Homo sapiens: one gene and its partners. The protein of the gene in region 3 interacts with the protein of the main gene of each other region in a pairwise test. Each region holds a gene or a part of one and is shown on either strand. Other genes may lie near its edges.

Region 1 (7,027 bases), on a different chromosome or scaffold from region 3:
CTGCTCCCAATTCTACAAATATATTCCAGAATTTCCCTCTAGTGTTTTTATGGTTTGAGTTTTTTGACACAGTATGTTATCTCCTGGATTTTACTTGCCTGAGCTGCCTATTCTGTCCCCTGTTCTGTCCTGGCAGATGAGGAGGGGCCTGAGGGCCTGACCCAATTCTTGATGACAGAGGTGCGACGGCTGCGGGAAGCTCGCAAGAGCCAGCTGCAGCGGGAGCAGCAACTGCAGGCCCGGGGCCGGGTGCTCGAGGAGGAGCGGGCAGGGCTGGAGCAGCGGCTGCGGGACCAGCAGCAGGCTCAGGAGCGCTGTCAACGGCTGCGGGAGGACTGGGAGGCGGGCAGCCTGGAGCTGCTGCGGCTCAAGGATGAGAACTACATGATCGCCATGCGCCTGGCACAGCTCAGTGAGGAGAAGAACTCGGCTGTACTTCGCAGCCGTGACCTGCAGCTGGCGGTAGGCCCTGGGGAGATGGGTCGGGGAGGCAAGGGAAGGGGCAGCTTTTGCAATGTAGTAGCCAGCCAGCCTGTGTCCCAGAGCCACCATTGCTGGCTCTTTGACGTGGATAAGTCCTTTTAGTGCTCGGTGTACCTACTTCATTGGGTTATGACTGTGGTTCTCAATGGGGGGTGATTCTGACCCCCTAGAAACATCTGGCCATGTCTAGGAAATATTTCTGGTTGTCACAATTAGTGGGGATTTATTGGCATCTGGTGTGTAGAGGCCAGGGATGCTGTCAAACGCCCTGCAGGGCACAGGACAGTCCCCAGCAAAGAATTACCTAGCCTAAAACATCGGTAGGGCCGGGGCCAAGAAACACTGGGTTATGAGGATTTGATAAGTTGTTTTTTTTTTTTTTTTTTTTGAGATGGAGTCTCACCCTTGTTGCCCAGGCTGGAGTGCAGTGGTGTGATCTCGGCTCCTTGCAGCCTCTGCCTCCCGGGTTCCAGCGATTCTCCTGCCTCAGCTTCCCGGGTAGCTGGGATTACAGGCTCGTGCCACCACACCCAGCTAATTTTTGTATTTTTAGTAGAGATGGGGTTTCACCATGTTGACCCGGCTGGTCTCGAACTCCTGACCTCAGGTGATCTGCCCGCCTCGGCCTCCCAAAGTGCTGGGATTACAGGCGTGAGCCACCGTACCTGGCCCGGTGAGTTTAAGACACAGTTTCAAACATGTACAGTCCCTAGCACACTGCTCACAACTTGTGTCATCAGTAGCCATTGTTGATATTATTATCAAGAGACACATAGGTTAAACATCATGTCTTCTAATCCTCACCAAAGCACCATACGCCAAGCCCTCATTTGCAAATACAGACTCTGAGACTCAGATTAGTGAAAGGACTTGCTCAAGGTCACAGAGCCAGGAAGCGGCACAGCCTGGATTTGAACCGGGTCCGGCTGGCTCCAGTGCCAGCCCCCTTCCCACGCTGCTGTTCCGCCTACTCCCTGTGTGGGGAAGTCTCACCTGACTCCCTCCAGCAGCAAGTGAGGCTGTGCCTCCTACTGCATCTCACTTTCTTGGTTTCTGACTGGGACTCAGCAGGGGGATAATACCAGTATTTGACTGCCACAGGGCGTTGTTCCAAGGATTTAATGAGCTGATCCACGTCAAGGGCTTAGCAGTGCAGGCCGCACGGCACGCAGGAGGCTCTCTCCAGCCATGTTGCTCGAGGCTGCACAGTGGGTTCTGACCGTGGAGTTTGAAGCCTCCCTACCCCAGGAGCCTTGGGCCGTGGCTACAGCATTGCAGGTGGCTGTGAGGCTGTAGATGTGGGTGCACTGGTGTGCCAGTCCTCGGTTTGTGCACGCCAGGTGGGTCGATATCTTGGGGAGGTGAGCCCTGATGGGGGTGTTGAGGCCACCAGTTGAAGGGTCCAGGCTGCTGGTCCTGCTTGAGGATGTAGGTGGCTGGTTTGAGGTTGTGAGATGACCTTGAGGCTATCGTTCGAGGGCCTGGTTGGTGTGTGGCAGGAGACGGAGGCTTTCTGAGGAGTGATGGGCAGGGACAGGGACATGTCCCAGGCCTGCTCTACTGTGAAAAACCATGTGGCATGGGGAAGGCTTTCCTTTCTGTGCCTCAGTTTCCTCATCCTCATCACAGATAAGGATGATGTAACAATTATAAAACGGCCTTGTGCTTTATAGATACCATCCTCAGTGCTTGCCATGCACAGACCCCTTTAATTTTCCAGCCACCCTACGCTGGGGTGGACAACACTATCTTCCCCATTTCTAGAGGAGGAAACTGAGGCACAGAGAAGTTGGTTAGAGCACTTTCCCAATGTCCTGGGATTGAAGGAATTTTTTTTTTTTTTTTTTTGAGATGGAGTCTTGCTTTGTTACCCAGGCTTGAGTGCAGTGGTGAGATCTTTGCTCACTGCAACCTCTGCCTCCCACGTTCAAGCGATTCTCCTGCCTCAGCCTCCTGAGTAGCTGGGATTACAGGTGTGTGCCACCATGCCTGGCTAATTTTTTTTTTGTATTTTTAGTAGAGATGGGGTTTCACCATGTTAGCCAGGCTGGTGTCAAACTCCTGACCTCAGGCGATCTGCCCGCCTCAGCCTCCCAAAGTGCTGGATTACAGGCATGAGCCACTGTGTTCAGCCGGATTGAAGGATTTCTGAGTTGGCTCTCAGCACTGCTGAGGGGCGGTGGCTGGCAGGTAGGAGTGCTCCCCTTTCTTTACCCAGAGGGCTTCCCCTTTTTTCTGAAACAGACATGGGGCTTGCTGTAGGGTTTTCTCAGAAGAAATAATTTACTGCTTAGAGAGGACGGCGTGAGGGCTGCAGGCTGGGGGTACTGGGAGGGGCTGCAGCCCTCACGGCTTGTCCCACCTTTGGGTTGGGTGTGATGCGATTGGGAGATGTCCTGCGTGTGTGGCCATCTGGGGGCTGCTGGGACAGGGGAGGGGGATGGAAAAGAGATGGTCGGAGGTGCCTCTGTAGTCTGCAGGTCATCTGCCTCTACGCAGAGTGGCTGCTTTTTCCTATTTTAGGGACCTAAGAAGTGAAATTGGCCAGGCGCAGTGGCTCATGCCTGTAATCCCAGCACTTTGGGAGGCTGAGGCGGGTGGATCATGAGGTCAGAAGATTGAGACCATCCCGGCTAACGTGGTGAAACCCCGTCTGTACTAAAAATACAAAAAATTAGCCGGGCGTGGTGGCATGCACCTGTGGTCTCAGGGACTCGGGAGGCTGAGGCAGGAGAATTGCTTGAACCCGGGAGGTGGAGGTTGCAGTGAGTCAAGATTGAGCCACTGCACTCCAGCTTGGGCGACACAGCGAGACTCTGTCTCAAAAAACAACAACAAAAAAAGAAGTGAAATTAAACTTAGCTACTATAAATTTACCTTAATTTATAATTTATGTTTGGAGCTTTTCTGCTCCAAAATTAACAAAGGTGTTGCAGATGGATCTGAACAGAGCACCTGATCGTGCCTGGCTTGGCGGCTTGCATCCCCACCTCCCATAGGCAGGTGTGTGGCGGCTGGGATTTAATACCCTGTTTTATAAGGTGCAAATTTAATGAGCTGTTATTTCTAAGCAACATAAACTGAAGGAACGAACGCTATAATTTTGTGCTCAGTGAGTTTGTACGCCGGGATTAAATGCATCCGTATTTCCTGTTGCTCGTCGGAGACTCCCAGGTGTCCTGTCCTCTGAGCTCATCAGGGAAGCCGGCTGGCCAGGGGTCAGGCAGGAGGCCCTGGTGTGTGGCTGCGGTTTGCTGAGAGGGTGTGACCACAGTTGTCCTTGTAACGAGCTGTCTTTCTCTGGCTGTTCACAAAGCATGTTTTGTGAGTGGAAAGGAATGCGGGAGTCATGAATTTCTTTCTGAGTCTCTTGCGGAGGAGGAGGAGTGGACTGTTAATTTGTAGAATTGCCTGACCCAGCCTCCAGACCCGTGTGTGTGTGTGTGTGTGTGTGTGTGTGTGTGTGTGTGTGTGTGTGTGTGTGTGGAGGGGGGGCTGCCATTCTAACCTCTCAAGGCTGGGGAACTAGCAAGTCACTTTCCAAGAGAGGCCAGGGGACTCCTAGGGCACCAAATATTGCATGCCTGACTGTAGCACCAGAAGTCATTGTGACCTTTTCCCAACAATGACTTCATTTTATGGCCTGCCACCTGCTGCCACTCTTGTCACTGTCTGGCCACCTCAGACCCCACATGCGTCACGCTTGGCTGAGTGCACTCATAGTCCAGCAAACTGGCCATGCACGTCTGCTCCCAGCTTGGTGGTCACACCACAGCTGCCCACCCCCCATACCAGGCCAACTTCTGGCTGCACACTCCGAACTGGTGATTGGTTAGGGGCATGGGATTTTGTTTGAAGCTGTGAAGACAGCCACGGTCACACTGTGGCAGCTCTGTAGCCCTTCATAGTTTAGAGGCCTCTGCCCACTTGCTGTCTTGTTTGATTCTTGCAACACCTTTGGGAGGCAAATGATGGGGCCAGGGGATTGACTGGGCCCATTTTACTGATGAGGAAACTGAGGCCCAGAGGAGGTAAGTGACTTGCTCAGGATGACAGAGCCTAGAAGTAGCAAAATTGAAACCTGAACCCTGGAACTGGAGCTCTTGAGGGAGATGAACCAACAGCCAAATCTTCTGGAGTGGAGGCTTTGTTAGGAATTCCTTTCAGGGTGGACCAGACCAAGTCTGAGTCTCTGAGAGTGTGTTGAGGTGAGATGTTGGCTTGTTGCGGGGAGCATCTGGTTCCCGGACTGGATGAGTCCCTCAACTCTCAAAACCATTGCCCTCTCCTCTCCCCTCACACCCCCCCCGTACAGATGAGATGATTGAGGCACAGAGAGGGGCCATGACTTGCCCAGGGTCACACTGAGCTAGAGACGGAGCTGGGGTCTGACCCTGTTTTTTTTTTTTTTCTCCTTCTTTCTTTCTTCTTTCTTCCTTCTTCCTTCTTTCCTCCTCCCACTCTGCCCTCCTCCCGCCTCCTCCTTCTCCTTCTCCTCCTCCTCCTTCTCCTTCTACCTCTTCCCCCTCCCTCCTCCTCCCCTCCTCCTCCTCACCCCCTTCTCCTTCTTCTTCTTTTTTTTTTTTTTTTTTTTGAGACAGGGTCTCGCTCTGTTGCCCAGGCTGGAGTGCAGTGGCACGATTATGGTTCACTGCAGCCTCAACCTCCCAAAGCTCAAGTGATTCTCCCGCTTCAGCCTCCTGAGTAGCTGGGATAATAGGCGCGCACCACCACACCCAACTAATGTTTTAAATTTTTTTTGTCGAGACGAGGTCTCACTGTGTTAACTAGGCTAGTCTCCATCTGCCCGCCTCGGCCTTCTAAAGTGTTAGGCCTGGTTTCCCTTATTCTTTTTTTTTTTTTTTTTTTTGAGACAGAGTCTTGCTCTGCTGCCCAGGCTGGAGTGTAGCGGCGCAATCTTGGCTCACTGTAACCTCCATCTCCTGGGTTCAAATGATTCTCGTGCCTCAATCTCCCTAGTAGCTGGGACTACAGGCATGTGCCACCACGCCCAGCTCATTTTTGTATTTTTAGTAGAGACGGGGTTTCACCATGTTGGTCAGGCTGGTCTCAAACTCCTGACCTCAGGTGATCCACTGAGGGCCCGCCTCAGCCTCCCAAAGTGCTGGGATTACAGGCGTGAGCCACTGTGCCTGGCCCCACTTCTTCTTGATGCGGCCCTCCTCCTTTTCTGCCATGAGAATACTGGGCTAAATTGACGGGAGTCAGTGTCAGAAGTGCGGGACAGACAGCGTGTCGTGATGCAGCATGTCCGCCCACAAGTTCTTAGAGTGGATTCCCCTGGGAGGGTGTCCTTGGCCTTGCTACCCACTGCTCCTTCCTCAGCCCTGTTTGTTTTATATCTGTCCAGCCTGTCCTGTTTTCATAGACAAGCCTGGGGAGGACTCCTGCTTCGGCTTCTCTGGGAATCTGGGAGGCACCCAGGAGTGAGGGAGCAGGTCTTCCCACCCCTGTAACCCGTGGCTCCCAGTGTGTCTCCCTCTGGGCTGACCCATGTCTTGGGCTCCAGGTGGATCAGCTCAAGCTCAAAGTGAGTCGGCTGGAGGAAGAGTGTGCACTGCTTCGAAGGGCCAGGGGCCCGCCCCCTGGGGCAGAGGAGAAGGAGAAGGAGAAGGAGAAGGAGAAGGAGCCAGACAATGTGGACCTTGTCTCTGAGCTGCGTGCTGAGAACCAGCGGCTGACGGCGTCACTGCGGGAGTTGCAGGAGGGCCTGCAGCAGGTACCAGGGCCAGGGCTTGTGGGCACAGGCTGGGGGGTGGTCAGGAGGGCCTGCAGCAGGTACTGGGGCTTGTGGGCACAGGCTGCGGGGTGGGGGATCAGGAAGGCCTGCAGCAGGTAGCAGGGCCAGGGCTTCTGGGCACAGGCTGGGTAGCGGGGCTCAGGAGGGCCTGCAGCAGGTACCAGGGCTGGGGCCCATGGGCACGGGGGTGGGGGGTGGTCAGGAGGGCCTGCGGTAGGTACCAGGGCTGGGGCTTGTGGGCACAGGCTGGCAGGAGGTCAGGAGGGCCTGCAGCAGGTACCAGGGCTGGGGCCCATGGGCACGGGGGTGGGGGGTGGTCAGGAGGGCCTGCGGTAGGTACCAGGGCTGGGGCTTGTGGGCACAGGCTGGCAGGAGGTCAGGAGGGCCTGCAGCAGGTACCAGGGCTGGGGCCCATGGGCATGGGGGTCGGGGGAGGTCAGAAGGACCTGCAGCAGGTACCAGGGCTGGGCCTCGTGGCCATGGGGGTTGAGGGGGGGTCAGGAGGGCCTGCAGCAGGTACCAGGGCCAGCGTTCATGGGCACAGGCTGCGGGGAGGTCAGGAGGGCCTGCAGCAGGTACTAGGGCCAGGGCTCGTGGACATGGAGTGGGGGTGGGGGTCAGACCCGGAAAACAGGCCCTCTTGCTGTTTGCTTATCCTCCCAAGGCCTGGGAAGCTGAGGATTTCAGAACCAGGGATCTGAGATCTGGATGGAGTCCCGGTAGCCTCTTGCCTGAAGCTCTGAGCTGAGGGCCCTTAGCACGTGGCTGTCCCTGGTTGTCTGG
Region 2 (7,027 bases), on a different chromosome or scaffold from region 3:
ACCCCCTGCAATCAGTTTCCCTCTCCCATCACTCTCTTAAAGGTCACCCTATATTTGCCAATGTTCTCCTGAAACTATGTTATCTTCAGTAGATTCCATGAAGTTGACAATATCTTTACCTCTCAAACAGTCCTCTAAGCACTTTTATGTCTTTGTTCCTACCCCCTAGATGAAGATATACCATCCCCACCCACCAAGGTACTATCATCAACCTGCTTCCCTTCTGATTGTATTTCTTCCTTAATAATTTGATCCTCTTCTCAGCTCTATTTTTCATCATTATGGGACCAACTCTCCAAAGCCTATACTCTTCAACACTGATACTCTAGAAAGAACTCTCGGACCAGCACAGTGGCTAATGCCTGTAATCCCAGAACTTTGGGAGGCTGAGGCAGCTGGATCACCTCAGGTCAGGATTTCGAGACCAGCCTGACCAACATGGTGAAACCCTGTCTCTACTAAAAAATACAAAATTAGCCGGGCATGGTGGCACACACCCGTAACCCCAGCTACTCAGGAGGCTGAGGCAGAAGAATCGCTTGAATCCGGGAGGCAGAGGTTGCAGTGAGCCAAGACTATGCCATTGCAATTCAGTCTGGGCAACAAGAGCGAAAGTCCATCTCAAAAAATAATAATAATAACTCTCACTTCCAACTATATGTTGGATGTCCTACCAGTATTTCAAGCTCACTATCACATGTTCACTACCAAGTTCACTGCTTGATCCTCCTACTGGATCCAAAAAATCTATTTCACAGAAATAACCCAAGTACCTTAGCTGCTCTTTCCTTTCCTGGCACTAAATTCATATAGTAAAATGGCTGCCAAATATCTACAGTAATGCCCTTAATCCAAATCTACAAACTATACCAAGAACTGCATAAGTCAGGCTCATGTTAAAATCTACAACAGAATTTCAAAATGCGTATCTGATATGTGTAGTTAAAACTAAACAGTGCTCACTTCAGCAGCACATATACTAAAACTGGAAAGATAAAGAGAATATTAGCACGGCACCTGCACAAGGATGACATGCAAATTCATGAAGAGTTCCATATTAAAACAACAAAACAAATAAAGTCCTTCCTTCAATTTTTGCTTAAAGAAGTCCCACAGGATTAGTGCAAAATAAGACTGGTAACGGGAGGGCCATAGCCAAATAAAGACTAAAGGCCAAGATGAACTATGATGGGGAAGGAGAGAGAGGACATTTACAGCAAAGGAAATGAAGAAGTTTTCTAGAGAAATAAGACCAACAAGGAGGAAATGTGAAGAATAGTAAATTCAACTAAAAAAAAAAAAAAAAGCCGAGCACAGTGGCTCACACCTGTAATCCCAGCACTTTGGGAGGCTGAGGCAGGCGGGTCACCAGGTCAGGAGATCGAGACCATCCTGGCCAACATGGTGAAATCCCGTCTCTACTAAAAATACAAAAATTAGCTGGGTATGGTAGTGCGTGCCTGTAATCCCAGCTACTCGGAAGGCTGAGGCAGGAGAATCACTTGAACCAGGGAGTCGGATGTTGCAGTAAGCCGAGATCATGCCACTGCACTCCAGCCTGAGCAACAGAGCAAGACACTGTCTTAAAAAAAAAAAAAAAAAAGAGTTGAATGATCTAAGAGGCAGCAGACTGCCAGCAGGTGGGGGGAAAACAAAAGCAAAATTTGACAGTGCTTTTGAAAACAGCCAGACATTGAAAGAGCCACTAAAAGCAATACAGAGGGCTGTGGAGGAAACAACTTTAAGCTGGAACTGAAGAGTGTACCTAGAACCAGAAAAAGGAGAGTAAAAAAAGAGTAAAAAGCCCCCAAAGAACAGCACTAAAAACCTGAGTTGCCAAAACCTTAGAGTGAAACCTAGAGCTATAAATAGTTGGGAGGCTCATTAACAAGTAAGCTGTATATACCTAGCAAGATTGTATGGTAAAGCCACATACATGAAATTTCCTTTGTGTGAACATAATTTATACCTTAAGTATCCCATATACTATAGACAAGGAGTTTATCCCTCCAGTTGGCTAAACAAGTGTGTACCGGGTTGTGGGAACGCAACGATATTGGGGCTAAGTGGTAGAAATAATAAAGAAAAAATGCCACTGTCCTAAAGGCATTGTCCTAAGGGCACAGCAGCACATATACAGACTCTGGGAAAAAACCCTCCAAACCCCATTATCTCAGGCTGCAATCACTGAAAAATCTAGCCAAAAATTTCCTGGGAGACTAATTCCTGAGAACACTATATTATGTTCATTACAAATACAACAAATATCGGCCAGGCGCGGTGGCTCACGCCTGTAATCCCAGCACTCTGGGAGGCCGAGGTGGGCGGATCACGAGGTAAGGAGATCGAGATGATCCTGACTAACACGGTGAAACCCTGTCTCTACTAAAAATATAAAAAAAATTAGCCGGGTATGGTCACACACGCCTGTAATCCAAGCTACTCAGGAGGCTGAGGCAGGAGAATCACTTGAACCCGGGAGGTGGAGGTTACAGTGAGCCAAGATTGCGCCACTGCACTCCAGCCTGGGTGACAGAGCAAGACTCCGTCTCAAAAACAAAAAACAAAAAACAAAAAAAAAATACAACAAGTATCAGCTTACCCAGATAAGTAATGTTTTCAGCTAATTCACATCCATCAGCATCCTGGAAATATTTTACTGTTTCCTGGTTATTAGCACCAAGCACATATGTCTGAATAGGAGCTAGTGAGGGAAACAGACATGACACCATATAGTTACCAGATCTGCTTTAGAACTTAAGATATGCCTCTCTATAGAAAAAATACTTATATTAAAAGTAAATAGTCCATGCATTCACATTCCCCATATTTAGCAATCCTAAATGTGGAACAGCTATCCACTAAGGATATACTACACCCAACCTTGTAGCTTGGCTATTTTATTTATTTTATTTTTTTTTTTTTGAGACAGAGCCTTGCTCTGTCGCCCAGGGTGAAGTGCAGTGGTGCAATCTCGGCTCACTGCAATCTCCGCCTCCCAGGTTCAAGCAATTCTCCTGCCTCAGTCTCCCGAGGAGCTGGGATTACAGGCATGCGCCACCATGCCCTGCTAATTTTTATATTTTTAGTAGACACACGGTTTCACCATGTTGGCCAGGCTGGTCTTGAACCCCTGACCTCAGGTGATCCACATGCCTCGGCCTCCCAAAGTGCGGGGATTACAGGTGTGAGCCACTGCGCCGGATAGTCTTAATAATGAAAAGCAACTTAAATTCTTAAATACTGAAAATAACTCTTAAATTCTTAAATAATGAAAAACAACTCTGCAAGAACTCTGGCCCTTGAAATTTTATTAGAAATCATATGTTAAATAAAAATAATTTCTATACCTTTCTTGATGCCAGTCTTATACTCCTCCCATTCAGCATCTTGGGTGGAGCCAAAGAAATTTCCTACACACAACAGCAGCTAAAATGAGTTTTTTAAACAGATATATGAGATTTTAAAATATCAAACAGTACATAATTGATAGTAATATTCAACTAGTTATTTAATAGTTTCAAATCAGTTTTTAATTCTTAATCAATTTGCAGATTTCAATATACAATTCTTTAGCAGCAACTGTTAACAGTTACTGATTCTATGAATTATTAAGTTTTGGCTCTTTGGCTGTCAAATTCAAGTTAGAGATGGGTAAGAGAGAGTCAAGGAACTAAACTTTTAAAGTAAGTTAGAATTCAAGTGCTCCTCAAATTCCCAGTCCCACTCTGCCATTCATGGCTCTCTCCACATATCCTTCCCTGGAATATACAGTCACATAGAAATAGATCTTTAAAGAATCCCCGTGTGAAACAAAAAAACTTAAAATATTAGAATCTGAGAAATACAAGGTATAAAAAACACATTTCCTGCCTGTTGTCTTTACCCAACCTTTAACCCAATGAACAAATTATCCTCATACCTGGAATACTCTCTTCTGTACTCTTAGGAGTTTACAGTCTAGTTGGCAACCATACACAACATTCATATAGAGCTTTTAAGCTTGTGATGGGTTGGTATGTATGTTACCTGACTTAATCCTCATCACATTCATGAAATAGATCTGTGCTTCCCAAACCCAGAGGTCAGAATCACTTAGGGAAGTGTTGCTAGTCTGTTTTCAGTTTTTTGTACAGTGATAAAGTAACAATATTCAAATTCAAAAAATATAAAGATCAATAGTAAACAGTAAATAGGTCTCCCTCCCCCAGCCACTCAGCAGCTACTAAGTTCCTATGCTCATGAAGGGAACTCAATTTAACAAAAATGGTATGTGTTCAATCAAGACTTAAAGGAGTGCAAACTTTATTTTTATGTGTGACTACAAAGGTAAAATTAAATTCAGTAAAAACAAACATCTTACATCAAAGTTTCCACTTTTCTTCTGAATTGCTTGAACTCTATTGAATAAAATATCAAACTTTCCTTCAACATCTCCACAAGCCAAGCTGCAAACAAAGAGATAAACATTATAGCAATTCAGGAAACAAATGGGCCTGCCGGGTTTGGTATATACTGGTCTTTTGGATTAGATAGATACATGATCTAGTCTCTCTGCAGTTACCTTGCAAGGTTCAGTGCACGTAAACCACTGGGCAGATCCACTGAGGGTCTCACCAACACCTCCCACTCGCCGTATCTAAAATTTAGCTTATCATTTACTCCACAATTGAGCCAGCTTCTTCTCCTCATTCCTAAGTTTTGTGGACATGTCTATGGCTGACATGGTCAACAAAAGTCAAAAATCCCCCATCCAGTCACCAAGTCCCATCAATCCCTTTTTCCAAACATCTTTCACATTCATTCTATCCTTCTTATTTTGACTCCTCCTATCTTAGTACGACTCCTCCTATCTTAGTACAGGGCTTCAGTCATTCATTTGATAAACAGGTACTGGACACCTACCATACGCTAAGTACAATATGCCAAGTATACTATGCTAAAAACATGTTAGCAGTACAAGGTGGAGGAAGACTCAGTTTAAGCCTCAAAGAGTTTATAATCAGGGAAAGGAAGACACTCTAATCATTATAAATTTATAAGAAAAGGGCTACAACAGAGGTATGTGTGAAGTGTTATGGGGCAGGAAGTAGAAAATGGCAAGAGCTGACATTGGTAAGGTAAACTGGCCCTACGTTGTGAAGTGACTTTTACTATCATCTCATTTCTGAGATTTTCTAATTCTGATTTATGTGGTTTTTCCACGGCTTATATCATTTCCTTAATGTCTTTTAACTCATCTTGAAATATTAAAATTTTATTGTTTTGTGAGTGTCTCTTTCTGGCGTGCTTTTATTGTACACCTCGCCAAACTTTTTTTTTTTCTTTTTCTGAGACAGGGTCTCACTCTGTCACCCAGGCTAAAGTGCAGTGGCACGACCTTGGCTCACTGCAACCTCCACTCCACTCCACCCCACCTCACCCCCTTCCTATGGCAGAGGAAGAATCAGACAAAAATACAATGCATCTAGTGTTAGATTCAAAGTAGAGAATACATTTATGTTTCCTCTAATGCCTTCTCTTCCTCCTGTCCATCCTACAGAAAGTAGTCAGTTTAATGTTCTTTCCTCAAAACATTAAGAGGTTCCCCACTGCCTATAGAACCACAGCTTTCCACAGGCCCTGACCTGTCACCTTTCTAGTACTTTCTCCAAGTTTTCTTAACTGAACTGGCAATTTGATTACTCTCTGCCTCTGTCATTCCCTAGGGTAGTTCCACCCTACCCATCCTAAATCCAAGTTTTTCCCATCCTTCAAGGTTTAGCACATTTCTGAAGCCTTCCTGGCTGGCTCAGAAGTCATTACCTTCTCAAAAACTCAGAAAACCACATTACAGCATTTCAGAGAAAGCTTTGTCATAAACTAATATGACTTTTATTTATATTTTGAGCACCACCTCCTCTAGGAAGCCTTCTAGTACCTATCAGTTACCAATTTCTAGTGTTCCCATAGGAGCCTGCATTTCTTCCATCACAGCAGTTGTCACACGGAATTACCATTGTCTCTGGGAGATCCACTGTCCAGTTTATACATCACCAGGTGCCTCATCTCCTCATCTGGGCCCTTTTCCACTGTTCTCTATCCCACTGAATAAAGATAGAAATCTATGACCCAACAAGGCCAGCTCCTTTTCACTCACAATTAAACCATCACAAGCCTTGTTGATTTTACTTCCTTAATAAACCCTGAATCCCTAAACTATTCCTCTGTCATCACTCTACCTAATCCCAGCTGTTCTCTACTTTGGCTCTGATTTGTTCTCCACATTGCAGACAGAACTGCTTTCCAAAATGAAAATTTGATCATGCCAAAGCGTTCTTAAGCATTTCAATAACCTTTTTAGGTTAAAGACAAGAATACAGTTACGTGCCACATAACAATGTTTCGGTCAACAAGGGACCACATATGTAATGGTGGTCCCATAAGATTATAATGGAACTAAAAAATTCCTATCGCCTAGTGATGTCTAGCCATTTGTAACATCATAGTGCAATATATTACTCATTTGTTTGTGGTAATGCTGGTATAAACCTACTGGGCTGGTGGTTATAAAAAGTGTAGCACATACAGTTATGTACAGTATACAATATTTGATAATGATAATAAACAACTATGTTACTGGTTTATGTATAATATTTAGCATGCTATGGCCAGGTGCGGTGGCTTACGCCTGTAATCCCAGCACTTTGGGAGGCCAAGGCGAGCGGATCACAAGGTCAGGAGCTCGAGACCATCCTGGTTAACACAGTGAAACCTCATCTCTACTAAAAATACAAAAAATTAGCCGGGCGTGGTGGCGGGCGCCTGTAGTCCCAGCTACTCAGGAGGCTGAGGCGGGAGAATAGCATGAACCCACGAGGCAGAGCTTGCAGTGAGCTGAGATCGCGGCACTGCACTCCAGCCTGGGCAACAGAGCAAGACTCCATCTCAAAAAAAAAAAAATATATTCAGTATGGTATGCTCTTTACTGTTTAGAGTACACTCCTACGTATTCAAAAAAAAAAAAAAAAAGTTGACTGTAAAAAAG
Region 3 (7,027 bases):
TTAAATATATATATTACACATTTTCAAATACACTAAAAAATTTGGAAAGACACTACCAACACTGTTAACCTGGCAAATAGGATTAGGGTTGGAAGTGACATGAAAGGGAGATTTACTTTTTCATTTTATACTCACCTATGCTTCATATTCTTGTTTTATACTCTTCTGTCTATATTGTTTAAATTTTATACATATACATTTATTAAGATTACAAATGGCATGTTCTAAAAAATAATACTGGTGTAAATAACAAGAAAGGTAAAGATATATGAACAATACATACAAAGAAGTAAAAACTAATTCAACTAATTTTTCCAATCATGACCATTCACTTATAAGACAAAGATTATTTGTAACAACTAGGCATTCTTCAAGGTCCTGTCTTGGTCTCCTACTTTACAACCACTCTACATTCTCAGGAATCTTTTTTTTTGGATGATTCCTAGATTTTTCTTTCCCTCTCCAGCCAGTCACAGAATTCATAGAAAGCCTCAAACCCTCTGTACCATCAAATTAACACAGCGAACAAAGAATACTGTCTTCAAAGGAAAAATTACATGTATACATACATATATATACACACATATATAGCTTTTAGTGAGTGCTGTCTTCAAACCGAAAAATTATATACATACACAGCTTTTAGTGAGTGCCTGTATTATAGTGTATCTATCAGAAGCTTACAACTTAAATAAGACATACAAATATGCAGCAATCAGACAACCGGTTGGAATACTAATCGTGTGGTATTACTTTGCAGACATTTTGCTTAGCTACAGTCACAGAAGAAGGCCTACAGATCATCCAAATGCTAACCCAATCCTAATGATATCAGGAAATAAGAGCCTCATTCCCCTAGTGACTGGGAACTGGAAATAGTCTACCACCCAGGGCACCTGGAGTGAAGACTGGACAATTACATATGCATACAGCCTTAGACAATAATCCCTGCCATGTTTGTTTAGTCAATACAATTGGATTTCTCCTTCCACTTCCTGGGAGGAAAGCCCTGATGTGAACCAGAGTCCATTTGACTGGGGCTTAATCACTCAGTTCAGATTTTGCCAGCTCCCTCCCACCGAAAATTACACACTGAGTTTTATAATCCACTGCTTCAGATGGAGTCATTAACAAAAGTGATTTATCAGACTCACAACCCCAAACCACAGTGCTTTTATCTACTACAACCATGTGTTTCTATTATTTCCTAAAACCTCTTCCTTTAGTGTCCCACTCATTTGGTGCTATTTTTAAACATATTTTAATGATCATTCACGTGTAAGTTGTTACCCTTTGGACACTTTTTTTTCTGGCTATCTCCAACAGGGCCAGCAAATTTCTAAAGCAAATTTTCTTAGGTTTAGTCCCATTCAACCTGGGTTTCCTCATCTTCTAACCCAGCCCTACATAAATGCAACATATATTTTATATTTAAAACTCTAATATTATCTTTAAAATCTGTCAATTGCCCAAAGTGGATTATTTCTTTCTTTGTGCAAAATAACAACCATAATTCATGCTCCCCTCTGCAAGATCTCTGGCATGTATTTGTCACTTTATATTTGGGCCGTGGCAGCGTGTTTTCCTTTTGTCTCCTAGACTTCCTATAGACATGCAGTATTTATGATTATGATTATACTCAACAATAAGATAATTTCCTTAGAAAGTAATGGCATTGGTAACAAAATCTACCAAAATATCTCCTGCAGCACATACATTTAAAACATTAACTCATTCAGTTTTTTAAATTGCAAAGCAGCAACATATTTTGAACAAATATAGCTACTGCTTTCAGCTCTTAAAAAAAAAAAAACCTATGAAATAAAATGCAATCCATACCACAATACTGCCTGTTAAATCTGCATATCTTACCCCTTCTATCAATTTTAAGAAATGTGAGATCATAGTCACAGCTAATAACTGATGTTCTAAAAATACAGTTCTGTTCTTTGAACTCTCTGGATCTTAACTTATTAGGTTAAAAAATGATAAAATACCCAGCAAATGTAGACTTTGTATCCCGTAGATGTTCTTTTTTTGGAGGGTCATCTCTCAAGACTTCATCTTGTGATTTTTCTCTTGGGTCTTCTGGAACATGTTGGTGTTCATCAGTACTGGTTTCCGATGGCTTTTGATTTGAATGTTTCTTGTCTCCTCTCCCATCAGAGCGACTCCATGATGTTAATCTTTCTTCACTGTTCTTGGTGGGTTTTCTAAAACCACTACACAAAGAGCCCTGAGCTACCAATGCTGAAGATGAACTAAGTGGTTCAAATTTTCTGCCCTTGCTGTGAAATGACAGTTCTTCATCATCAGAGGGTCTCAAGAATTTAGCTCTCAAATTGCCAAAAGAAAACTCTTGATTTTGCCTTGGGTTAGATTCTCTTCTACACGTTTCTAAAGACCCAGGTCTCTTATCTTTTTCATCACCAATAAATTTTTCATTATTGCTATTTTTTGCAGTATCTGTTGTAGCATATCTATCCCTTGAACTGTTACCATATTTTACTAAGTCTGATTCTCTACTTTCTTGACAATTTTGTGCTTTATCTGAATATGTGGGTTTCCTCCACCGTTCCCGTCTATAATCTTCTTTCGTGGATGCAGCTTTTTCAGCATCTTCTAATTTTGACTGAAATATTTCCATTGACTACAAAGGAGAAAAATTAAACAAGATATCTAAAATTAGGAACGGCTCAGTGACTTGCACCCCACATGTCACTGTATGACTCACTGCCAAGTGGCACACTGAAAAGCCCACTAACGGGGTGAAAGAAGACCCATACAATCATCCTATACGGAAACGAATACTTTCTAAAAATGTGTAAACAATTAAAAATTATTAAATAACAAAAAGATTCCAAAAGGATAGCCAGTTACACCAAACACTCTGCACTAACACAAAGTATAACACAGAAAACAGTAGAGACAAACTTTGCAAAAAATACTTAATTCCTACTGGTTGTGAGATTCAAGAGGTTAAATTGCTAAAACAGATTCTCACCAAAAAAAAAAAAAAAAACAGAATAGTTCAAGAACAAGAAAGACTTGGAAATAAAAAATTGTGTGTCCCAAAAAGCTGCCAAGATACACCAAAAGGAAGAAAAGACAGTGCTGAAAACTAAATTAACCTGGGAATTCTCTATATTTTAGGAAAAGGTAGTAAATAAATGTAAGTTATAAGAAAAAAAGATACATGAACAATTGATTCTAGAAAATCTAATATGCATTTATTAGTACTTCCAGAAAGATGGAGCAAAGATGATGGGAATAGAGCATTAATTTTAAAAATATATAAGAAAATTTCCCCAGCCGATTTCTCAGAAGGACTCATCCAATAGCCTTGGGTGGGGGAGAAAGAAGAAAAACACAGAAAAAAACCCTAATACCTGAATCTCAAAACTCAAGGAAAAAAAAAAAAACCTTTACAAGGACTAGATCAGGGAAGGAGTGAATAAGTGTGAGCCTGTATATGGATAGGGGTAGATAAATAACAAATTATCCACAAAGGAAAGACAGACTTACAGCTGTTCATCCATAATAATAAGTAAATAATAGAATGAAGATTAAATTTTGAAAACAAAATTAAGCTATAATTCTATATAGAGAATTCAATTCACAGTCAAATTATCCTTCCTTGGTATGGGCCAAAGAAAATCATTTTCAAAAATGCAGGGAATCAGAGGGCATATCACTAGCAATTCTGAGGGAAAAAAATTACTCAAGATGATTAAGACACACCATCAATGAATTCGGGCAAAGATCTCTGAAAAAAAGAACAGATGCTAAAAACCAAATGTCAAATGCAATGGTCAAGTCTAAATAACTGTTCTTGTAGTTGCAAACTTTAAAACAATTTTCAAGGAAAAGATGCATCATACATAGAAACAGAAAGTAGGAAGGTGGTTACTGGAAGGAGAGGGGATGAGAAGATGGAGGTCAAAGAGTCAGAAGTTTCCATTATGTAAGATAACTAAGCCTGGAGATACGATGTACAGTATGAGGACTACAGTTAATAATATCACATTATATACTGAAAATTTGCTAAGAGAGTAGATTTTAGGTATTTTTACCACAAAAAAAAAAGGAGAATAACTACGTAAGATAAATGATACACTAGTTTGCTTAACTCTAGTAATTATTTCCCCATGCATATCAAAACGTCATGGAATACATACCTTAAACATATACAACATAAAAAATAAAAAAATAAAATTAAAAAAAAACAAAAAAGTACCTTTTACTCAACTTTGAATATAAGGATACTTAAACATGATACTCTTAATCTTAAATGCAAAAGTCATTATTTTGTCTTTAGACAAAAAGGCAATACCAGCTTCCAATCCTGTTATCAAAGTTCTAAAATTATAACTATTTCAAGAAGAAAAGAAAGTTTAAGTATTAACAGAGAGGAAAAAAACAAAATAATTATTTGCATATAACTACCTTTCCACATAACCCAAAATTTTTAAAATTAGGATAATAAAAGTTTAAAGAATTGGCCGACCAGCACCAACACCAAGTCAGAAAACATTTTTAAAATTCAATTTATAATATAAAAAAATAAAAATAACCTCAATGGCATATGCATAATAACTGCACAGAGAAAAATACTGAAGAGCATAAATAAATAGTGTTTTGGGATGGGATGACTCTATATTATAAAGATACTAGTTGTCCTTAATTTATCTATACATTTAGTTAAATTTAAATAAAAACTCCAAAAAGAGTCGTAAATTTATAACAAATTTTGGAAAAATATTTATTTCTATTGAGCTTAAACTAAATTTACTAAGAAAACTAAACACATAAGAAAGCAAAGCTAATTTTTTTGGTGACTAACAAGAGATTTATCACATAGTGACTACCACATAGTAGGTGTTTATTATTTGCTATCTGCATAATTTACTGAAAACCACAATAATTAGAAAAGTATGATACAAATTCCAGGAAAAGATAGAAAAATCAATGAAACAGATCCGAGAGTAAAGGAACAGACCCATGTATATGAGAAAATTTAATGTATAACAAATGTGTCATTTCAAATTAGTGAGAAAAAATAATTCATTCAATATATAGCAAACAACTATATAAGACTTATGCAAAGTTTGATGCCTATTTCATACCATGCACAAATATATATTCCAGAAAAATTAAAGATAAAACATAAAAAATAAAACTGAACAAGCACTCAAGTAAGTACAGCTGCATATTTTTACGATTGTGGGGTGGGGAAGGCCTGTCAATAAATTATACCAAGAGCACTAATTCATGAAAAAATAATATGAGGGATTTTGATAGGTAAAAATATTTAAAACTTATCCATAGCAAATTATCAACGAAGTAAAAAACATCAAGCCGAGGGGGAGAAATCTGAACAGATTTATTAAAAAGTCTTAAATTATTATCCCAAAAGAAAAATGGAAAACAATATCAATAGTCAATTCACTAAAAAATACAAATGGTCAAAATAAATGTAAAAAAATTCCAATTCGGCTGGGCGCAGTGGCTCACGCCTGTAATCCCAGCACTGTGGGAGGCCAAGGTGGGCAGATCACGAGGTCAGGAGTTCAAGACCAGCCTGACCAATATGGTGAAACCCTGTCTCTACTAAAAACTAAAAATACAAAAATTAGCCAGGCGTGGTGGTGTGCTCCTGCAGTCCCAGCTACTTGGGAGGCTGAGGCAAGAGAATCACTTGAACCGAGGAGGCAGAGGTTGCAGTGAGCTGAGATCGTGCCACCGCACTCCAGCCTGGGTGACAGAGCAAGACTCCACCTCAAAATAAAAATAAAATTCCAATTCACCAGTAAACAAATGTATAAAAACAAAAGCAAAACTTAAAAACTCTGCCAATCACAACAGCATGAACTATAAGAACTAATCTTACTGTTGAAAATTATGTGATAAAAGAGATATTTTTAAGTATGATTTGCTCATTCTTTCTGTAGAGAAATCTGGCAATATGTACCTTGCTTTAAATGTCTATATCCTTTAAACAGGCAATTTCACTTTTAGTAATTCACCAACAAGAAAAATATGCAAAATGCATTGGGCATAGACAGTCAGCACAGTGCTATCTAACAAGGGAAAGGAAAAGCATATAAATGGTCATCTACTGACCAATAAATAAAGGAAAAGCCTATAAATATATTAAAAAAATTAACAGGTCATTAAAATGTATATATTTACTGGCATCCAACTATGTGTACATTATTAAGTTTAAAAAGCCAGGGCATATTCTACGAGTCTACTTTAAAACTCTGGGGGAAAATATCTGGAAAAATATATTCCAGAAATCTTACTACTTTCTAAACCTGCTTTCCCCCGGCAATTGAAGAGAAAAAAAAGAATATCAGTAATTACTGCAATAGAAAGATTGTCCAGAACGATGGGGAAACTGGTTCTAAAATATATACTGTTGCACAGTTTCATTGTTTTAAGAGTATATATACACTCTTTTAAAAAAATCCGTAAAGTACCCAAACTCTAGAATATACCTAACTCTGGAATATAAAAAATTTCAACAGTGGTTACCTCCAGAAGTGTACCATGCAGACTTTCCGGCATTGTTTAAATTTTCTCACAATAAGAAAATTTTTTTTACATTAAACACACCCACATTTAAGTTTTATATACTTAAGCTTTACATTCATTATGTCAATAAAAATATGATACATGTTTAATAATAATGAAAAGCAGAAAATTACTTCAGTAGTATAAAGACATGAAATATTAATTCAATTCTTCATGGCACAAAACAAAGCTAAAGGCACTTAATTTTTCACCTAATTCTGAAAATAAGAGGCATCTCCTTAAAACAGATACTCACCCCATATCTTTCGGCTACAATGTCCTCAAAGTTTCTACTTTGTTTCTCAGCTTGTTCCTTCATTCTTAGATAAGATTTCCTTAGCCAGCTTAATCCACCATCTTCTACCACTGAAACTAAATTCCAGTATTAAATATTAGTTATACTTTTAATGTGGTTATCATACAATTAATATGTATTGCTTCTATGACTTCT
Region 4 (7,027 bases), on a different chromosome or scaffold from region 3:
TGTCCCCAGTTTTCTTTCTTTGCACATCTACCTGGCTCTTCTGTCCTCCCCTTCCATTTCTTGGCCTCCCTGTCACCTCCTGTCCCTGGTGGGCTCTTTCCTCTTGCCCCTTCAGCCTCCTCCTTCATACTGCATCCCTGTCCCTTTGTTCTCCTGGTCAGTGCCAGGGGTGGGTGATCCAAGTTGAATTCCAAGCCGGATTCCTTTTTCTGGTTCCTCCAAGGATGGCATGGGAAAGCATGAAGCCAATGAGAAGTGACTGGTGGGGCCTCTCTGCACCTATTAAGAGAGACAGATGACAGCACTTCTGTTGCTGCCTGGGACCTGAGCTTGTGGGCCCCAAATCCCTTTTTGCCAACACCCACGTCCCTTTGTCTCTGGGAAGCAGCAAGGCAGATGCCCCACATTCCACCACACCACCAAATAAAGAGGCAGCTTTTGTTACTTCTGTGGGCCTCCGGAAGGTTTAGGGGAGCTGCCCTAGAAAACGGCAGGGACTCTGGGGAGAACTGAGATCAAGCCAAAAGAAAAGTATAAATGGAGAAAAAAAAGGAAGGCCAGGAAGCAGGCCTGGACAGGAGCAAGCAGAGGTGTAAGTGGGGAGGAGAGGAGACGGGGACAGAAAATGTAAGCAAAGGTAGATACAGGAAGGGTGGTCAGTGAAGGGGCTTGCAGAGGAGGAAAGTGGCAGGACACGTGTCACATAGGGAAGAGTGTGGGCATTGATCTGGGATGACCTAGATTCCTGGGCCCAGCTATACCACTTAGAAATTGTGTGATCTTGGGCAAGTCACTTATCTTTCTGAGATGTCATTTCTTATCTGTAAAATGGGACTAATTTATTTATCACCTATTTATGAGGTGCCTTTATACTTGGAGGACCAGCTGTGAATGAGACAGACCACATCTCTGCCCTAATGAAGAGTACATTCTAACGGAGAGAGGCAGAAAATAAACAACACAAGTTCAGATGGCAATAAATGCTATGAACACGATATAATAATATGATACAGAGAGGAGGTGGGATGGGAGTTTATTTTATTTTATTTTGAGACAGAGTCTTACTCTGTTGCCCAGGCTGGAGTGCAATGGCACAATCTCAGCTCACTTCAACCTCTGCCTCCCAGGTTCAAGCGATTCTAGTGCCTCAGCCTCCCGAGTAGCTGAGATTACAGGCATGCGCCACCACACCTGGCTAATTATTGTATTTTTAGTAGAGATGGAGTTTCACCATGTTGGCCAGGCTGGTCTTGAAGGGAGTTTATTTTAGATATGGCAGTTAGGAAAGTCATCTTTGAGAAGATGACATTTGAGCTAAGACCTGAATAATGAAAAGGATCCAGCCATCCAAGATCTGAGGGAGGAGCATACCAGGCAGAAGCAACAGCAACTGCAAAGGCCCAGAGGTGAGAATGAGCTTCATTTGTTTGAGCGACAGAACAGAGGCCACTGTGTTTGCAGCAAAGTGCACGTGGAGGACCCTGGCAAGAGAACGTTCTGAGGCAGGCAGAGGCCAGATTACAGTGGATCTTGTAGGCCAGCCAAGAGGTTTGGCTTTCATGTTAAGTGTGGTAGAAAGCCAGGAGAGGGTCTTAGCCAGGAATGGGATGATACGATCTGCTTTACATTTTTAAAAGAGAACTTGGCCACTAAGTGGAAACACTTAAGATGGAGGGAAGTGACTCAGAACAGTGAGTCCTGTCAGCAAGTTACTGCAATAGTCCAGTCAAGAGATGATGGTCGCTTGAGTTAGGGCTGTAGAAATGGAGATGATTCAGAATATATATATATATATATTCTTTTTTTTTTTTTTTTTGAGACGGAGTCTCGCTCTGTCGCCCAGGCTGGAGTGCAGTGGCGGGATCTCGGCTCACTGCAAGCTCCGCCTCCCGGGTTCACGCCATTCTCCTGCCTCAGCCTCCCAAGTAGCTGGGACTACAGGCGCCCGCCACTACGCCCGGCTAATTTTTTGTATTTTTAGTAGAGACGGGGTTTCACCGTTTTAGCCGGGATGGTCTCGATCTCCTGACCTCGTGATCCGCCCGCCTCGGCCTCCCAAAGTGCTGGGATTACAGGCGTGAGCCACCGCGCCCGGCCCAGAATATATTTTGAAGGTGAAGCCCTCGGGATTTGCTAATGAATTCGATCAGGGGATAACAGAGACATGAAAGATGACTTTGCCTTGAGAAAATTGATGGAAGGTGGTGATGTTTATTGAATTGGGAAAGACTTGGCAAGGGGTAAGTTTTGGGGCTAGGGGAGCCATTTAAAACATGTTTTCCTCTGTTGAGTTTGAAGTAACTGTGGACATCCAAGTGAATATATTGAGGCAGTTGGATATATAAAGGCAGAACCAGGGAGAAAACAGGGCCGGAGATGTAAATTTGGAGTCATTAGCATATAATTGGCATTAGAATCCATGGGAAATAATGGTGCAGTCACATGGAGAGACACCAGAAGAGGAGAAAGGGTCCAGTCCCAGAGACACTCCAGTATTTAGAGGTCCAGTATAGAAGGAGAAATGAACAAAAGAGTAAAGTGAGAGGAACTCCTGGAGCATGTCATGCCCTGTAAGCCAGAGCAGAAAGTGCTTCAAGGAGACAGTGATCCACTGTGTCAGGTTGCTAAGTCAAGTGAGATGGTCTTGGATTTGGCAAGAGAGAGGACCCTGAGACATCTCAGTGCATGGAGGCACCGATTGGATTGGGTTTGGAGAGGAAATGGGAGATGAAGGTGAGTACCGATAACTCCAGTAGTCATTTTGAAGAGAAGCAGAGAAGTAAGGGAAATAGGGTCAAAAGATTATTTCTTTTCTTTTTTCAAAGGTAGGAAATGCTAGATCATGTATAATGAAAGAAAAGATCCAGTACAAAAAAAGGCCTTTGCCTGGAGAAGGAACGTTCCTCCATTCAAACGGGCGAAAAGTCAGAATTGAAGCAGAGATGCAGGCAGGAACTACCTGGGAAAATAGGGTTCTATTTTTTTTTTTTTTGAGACGGAGTCTCGCTGTGTCGCCCAGGCTGGAGTGCAGTGGCGTGATCTCGGCTCACTGCAAGCTCCGCCTCCCGGGTTCACGCCATTCTCCTGCCTCAGCCTCCCGAGTAGCTGAGACTACAGGCGCCCGCCACCACACCCGGCTAATTTTTTGTATTTTTAGTAGAGGCGGGGTTTCACTGTGTTAGCCAGGATGGTCTCGATCTCCTGACCTCATGATCCGCCCGCCTCTGCCTCCCAAAGTGCTGGGATTAAAGGCGTGAGCCACCGCGCCCGGCCGAAAATAGGGTTCCAGAGCGATTCTCTCCTCAGTAGAGTTTTTTGTTTGTTTTGAGACGAAGTCTTGCTCTGTCACCCAGGCTGGAGTGCAGTGGCGAGATCTTGGCCCACTGCAACCTCCTCCTCCTGGGTTGAAGCAATTCTTCTGCCTCAGCTTCGCGAGTAGCTGGGACTACAAATGCCAGCCACCACACCCGGCTAATTTTTGTATATTTAGTAGAGATGGGGTTTCGCCATTTTGGCCAGGCTGGTCTCCAACCCCTGATCTCAAGTGATCCACCAGCCTCAGCCTCCCAAAGTGCTGGGATTAAAGGTGTGAGCCACCGTGTTTGGCCGACAATACCATTTTTTTAGGGCCAGAAGCACCTAAGAGAGAGTTGAACCCTAACATCAAAAGCATATTAGGGAGGTGGAGGTTGGTCTGTTTCTCCAGAACACCCACCCCAGACTCTAGGGCCTTTGTCCTAATGGCCAGCTTCCTCTTGTGTCTCCCTAGCTAGACAGACCTCACTGTGCTGCTCAGTAGTGGGGGTAGAGCGGACTTTTCTTCCAATAGGAAGTCAGAGAATCTAACAGGAGATTCTTGGCCTTGGCACGCAGTTAAGGATCAGTTAATAGTTGTTGAATAGATCAAGGAGACGTAACAGCTAGGATCATTCTAGAACTGGAAAGATTGGCAAAAGACATGCCCATAGTTCCACATGTGAGCTCAGGGGAGCAGGGTAGATCTTCCCCTGAGATGCCCTCACCACTCAGCATCTATCTATGAAGCGTGTCCAAATTTGTCTTCTTTGAAAGTCTAGATTCTATTCTAATTTTTAAAAAATATCCAAACAGGGCCAGGTGTGGTGGCTCATGCCTGTAATCCCAGCACTTTGGGAAGCCAAGATGGATCGCCTGAGCCCAGGAGTTTGAGACCAGCCTGGGCAACAGAAAGAGACCCCCATCTCTACATTAAAAAAAAAAAAAAAAAAAAAAAAAGCAGGGCATGGTAGCCCATGCCTGTAGTCTCAGATATTAGGGATGCTGAGGAGGGAGGATTGCTTGAGCCCAGGAAGTCAAGGCTGCAGTGAGCCATGATCATGCCACTCCACTCCAGCCTGGGCAACAGAACAAGACTGTCTCAAAAACAGAAAGGAAAACCCCCCAAACCCCAAATGTTTAGTTCTGTACACATAAGAGATACTTAGCAAAAGTTTGTTGAATAGATGAACTGCTGCCTTACTTATGCATGAATACATCAAATATCTATTGAGCTTCGTTTTCAGGCACAATACTAGATCCTGGAGCTGTAATGGTGAGCAAACCAGATATGCTCTCTGCCTCGATAAAGCTTATAACCAAGTGAAGGGGAGACTTAAGTACACACACACATATAGCAAAGTACAAGGTTTTATGAGACCATTTAATAGAGGACTTCTCTTATTTTTTTTTGAGGAAGTGGAGGTACAGGCTAGAAAAGTTGACATCTGAGTGGTGAGTAGAATGAGCAGAAGTTGGGGGAAGGGGATGGGAGAATGTGCCTTGCAAAGGATTTATGGGAAAATCCTGACCCTCCCAACCCAATCCTCATTAATTCTCTAATCCTGGCCCTCAAATCCTAAATTCACTGTTGGTGTCAGTGCCTTTTACTCTCTCCACTTTTTCGTTCTGATCCCAGATGGGTACATGTGTCTAGAAACTCTGAGATGCTCCATAGATACAGAGAACTCTTAACTCATTATTTTGTAAATTAAAAAATAGAAAATATAGGCTTGTTCTGAAAATCCAAACAGCACAGATAGATATGATATGTAAAGTAAAAACCTTACCACATGTTATCCCATACCTCAGAAACAACTACTCATTATGGTTTGGGCATAGATCTTTCCAGGCCTTTTTCTATATGTTTGTCCATTTGTGTGTTATATACTATACATAAAATATTTTTTGCAAAAATTAGATCATAGCATATATTTTACAGCTCTTTTTCTTCAGTTAATATGGAAACTTCTTTGTTTTCACCATAGATCTGATACTTTCTTTTAAATGGCTGCATGATATTCTATTTAACTATCATCAGTTTATTTATTTATTATTGTTATTATTTTTCGAGACCGAGTCTCACTCTGTTGCCCAGGCTGGAGTGCAGTGGTGCGATCTTGGCTCACAGCAACCTCTGCCTCCCGGGCTCAAATGATTCTCCTGTCTCAGCCTCCCAAGTAGCTGGGATTACAGGGGCGTGCCACCACACCTGGCTTTCTTTTTTTTTTTTTTTTAGCGAAGACTGGGTTTCACCATGTTGGCCAGGCTGGTCTTGAACTCCTGACCTCAAGTGATCCACCTGCCTTGGCCTCCCAAAGTGCTGGGATTATAGGCGTGAGCCACTGCTCCCAGCCTATCATCAATTTAAACAATCCCTTATCGACTGACACTTAGATTATTATCCCGTGTTTGGTTATTATGCAGTGAACTTATATTTGAATTTGAGTTGTGAACTCTAAATGCACATTGTTTTAGGTCCAGTACTTACCACAGGTAGGTCATGGGAACTCTGAGGCTCTGTAATTTCTGAGCTCTCAGGATGAATAGGTGAAAATAGTCTGTATACATTTTTTGAGTCAGGGGATTTTTAGAAAGATTCAGGGCATCAAGAAAATACTATAAATGAAGTTAGGTCTTTAACTGTCAGGTGATTCCTTAGAAGCATGAAATACTTTTTGTTTACAGTAGACTAAGTGATTGTTTTGGTGCCAGGCCTCAAAATCTACTTTTCTATTGGACCTTACTACATAGAGTCACTCTCTTTTCCCTTCTTAGGTACTCCTTTTATTCCGTCCGGCATGATGCTACACTTCTCTGATGGGGTAGAGACAAGGTTTTCAGGACTTTGCAGACAAGAAATAAGTCTCCCTTTAATTTTGTGCCTCTAGAACATGGTAGGTTAGTTCACCTGCCCTCTTGATCATCTCAACCTTTGGACTTTGCAGGTGAGCTGCGTTCTCTACGGGAGGAGATTTCCCTGTTAGAGCATGAGAAAGAAAGCGAACTTAAGGAAATAGAACAGGAATTGCATTTGGCCCAGGCTGAGATCCAGAGTCTGCGGCAAGCAGCAGAGGATTCCGCAACTGAACATGAGAGTGACATAGCATCCCTGCAGGAGGATCTCTGCCGGATGCAGAATGAACTTGAAGACATGGAACGCATTCGGGGAGATTATGAGATGGAGATCGCCTCCCTCCGTGCAGAAATGGAAATGAAGAGCTCTGAACCATCCGGTAGTTTAGGTCTCTCAGATTACTCTGGGTTACAAGGTATGAGAGCCATCAAGTGGGTCAGTAAAGTCAAGCAGAGGAAAGGAGATAATATATAGGAAAATGGTAGAAGGTGGTGTTAGATCATGAATTGGGAATCTCTAGAAAAAACCTCCAGGTTGAATTCAAGACTGTAGGGGTCCAGGCGTGATGGCTCATGCCTGTAATCCCAGAACTTTGGGAGGCCAAGATGGGAGGATCACTCGAGCCCAGGCATTCATGAGCAGCCTGGGCAATGAAGTGAGACCCTATCTCTTTCTAAAAGAAAAATTTAAATAAAAATTTTAAAAAGACAGTAAAGGGGAAAAACCTACCCAGATGTTACATAACCAGTCCATGGTGGTGTAAGAAATAGCACCATGGAGAGGTACCCTGGGAATTCTTCAGAGAGTCATTGGGTCTTTGTTGATTTGACTATGGGAAAACCCTTCCTGGGAAAATTTCCAGCTCTAGGATGGGCA

The links.
Region 1: the proteins of CWF19L2 (region 3) and CARD10 interact in binary tests that used the Homo sapiens proteins (3 or more experiments, as listed by UniProt).
Region 2: the proteins of CWF19L2 (region 3) and CWF19L1 interact in binary tests that used the Homo sapiens proteins (3 or more experiments, as listed by UniProt).
Region 4: the proteins of CWF19L2 (region 3) and CCDC136 interact in binary tests that used the Homo sapiens proteins (3 or more experiments, as listed by UniProt).

The regions. Positions count from the first base shown.
Region 1 is NC_000022.11:37,509,408-37,516,434, reverse strand, and holds part of CARD10 (caspase recruitment domain-containing protein 10), read left to right. Parts: intron 1-136; coding exon 137-462; intron 463-6,013; coding exon 6,014-6,223; intron 6,224-7,027. UniProt on the Homo sapiens protein: Scaffold protein that plays an important role in mediating the activation of NF-kappa-B via BCL10 or EGFR.
Region 2 is NC_000010.11:100,257,616-100,264,642, forward strand, and holds part of CWF19L1 (CWF19-like protein 1), read right to left. Parts: intron 4,449-7,027; coding exon 4,364-4,448; intron 3,430-4,363; coding exon 3,351-3,429; intron 2,705-3,350; coding exon 2,603-2,704; intron 1-2,602.
Region 3 is NC_000011.10:107,426,802-107,433,828, forward strand, and holds part of CWF19L2 (CWF19-like protein 2), read right to left. Parts: intron 6,949-7,027; coding exon 6,833-6,948; intron 2,651-6,832; coding exon 1,998-2,650; intron 1-1,997.
Region 4 is NC_000007.14:128,794,944-128,801,970, forward strand, and holds part of CCDC136 (coiled-coil domain-containing protein 136), read left to right. Parts: intron 1-6,242; coding exon 6,243-6,566; intron 6,567-7,027. UniProt on the Homo sapiens protein: May play a role in acrosome formation in spermatogenesis and in fertilization.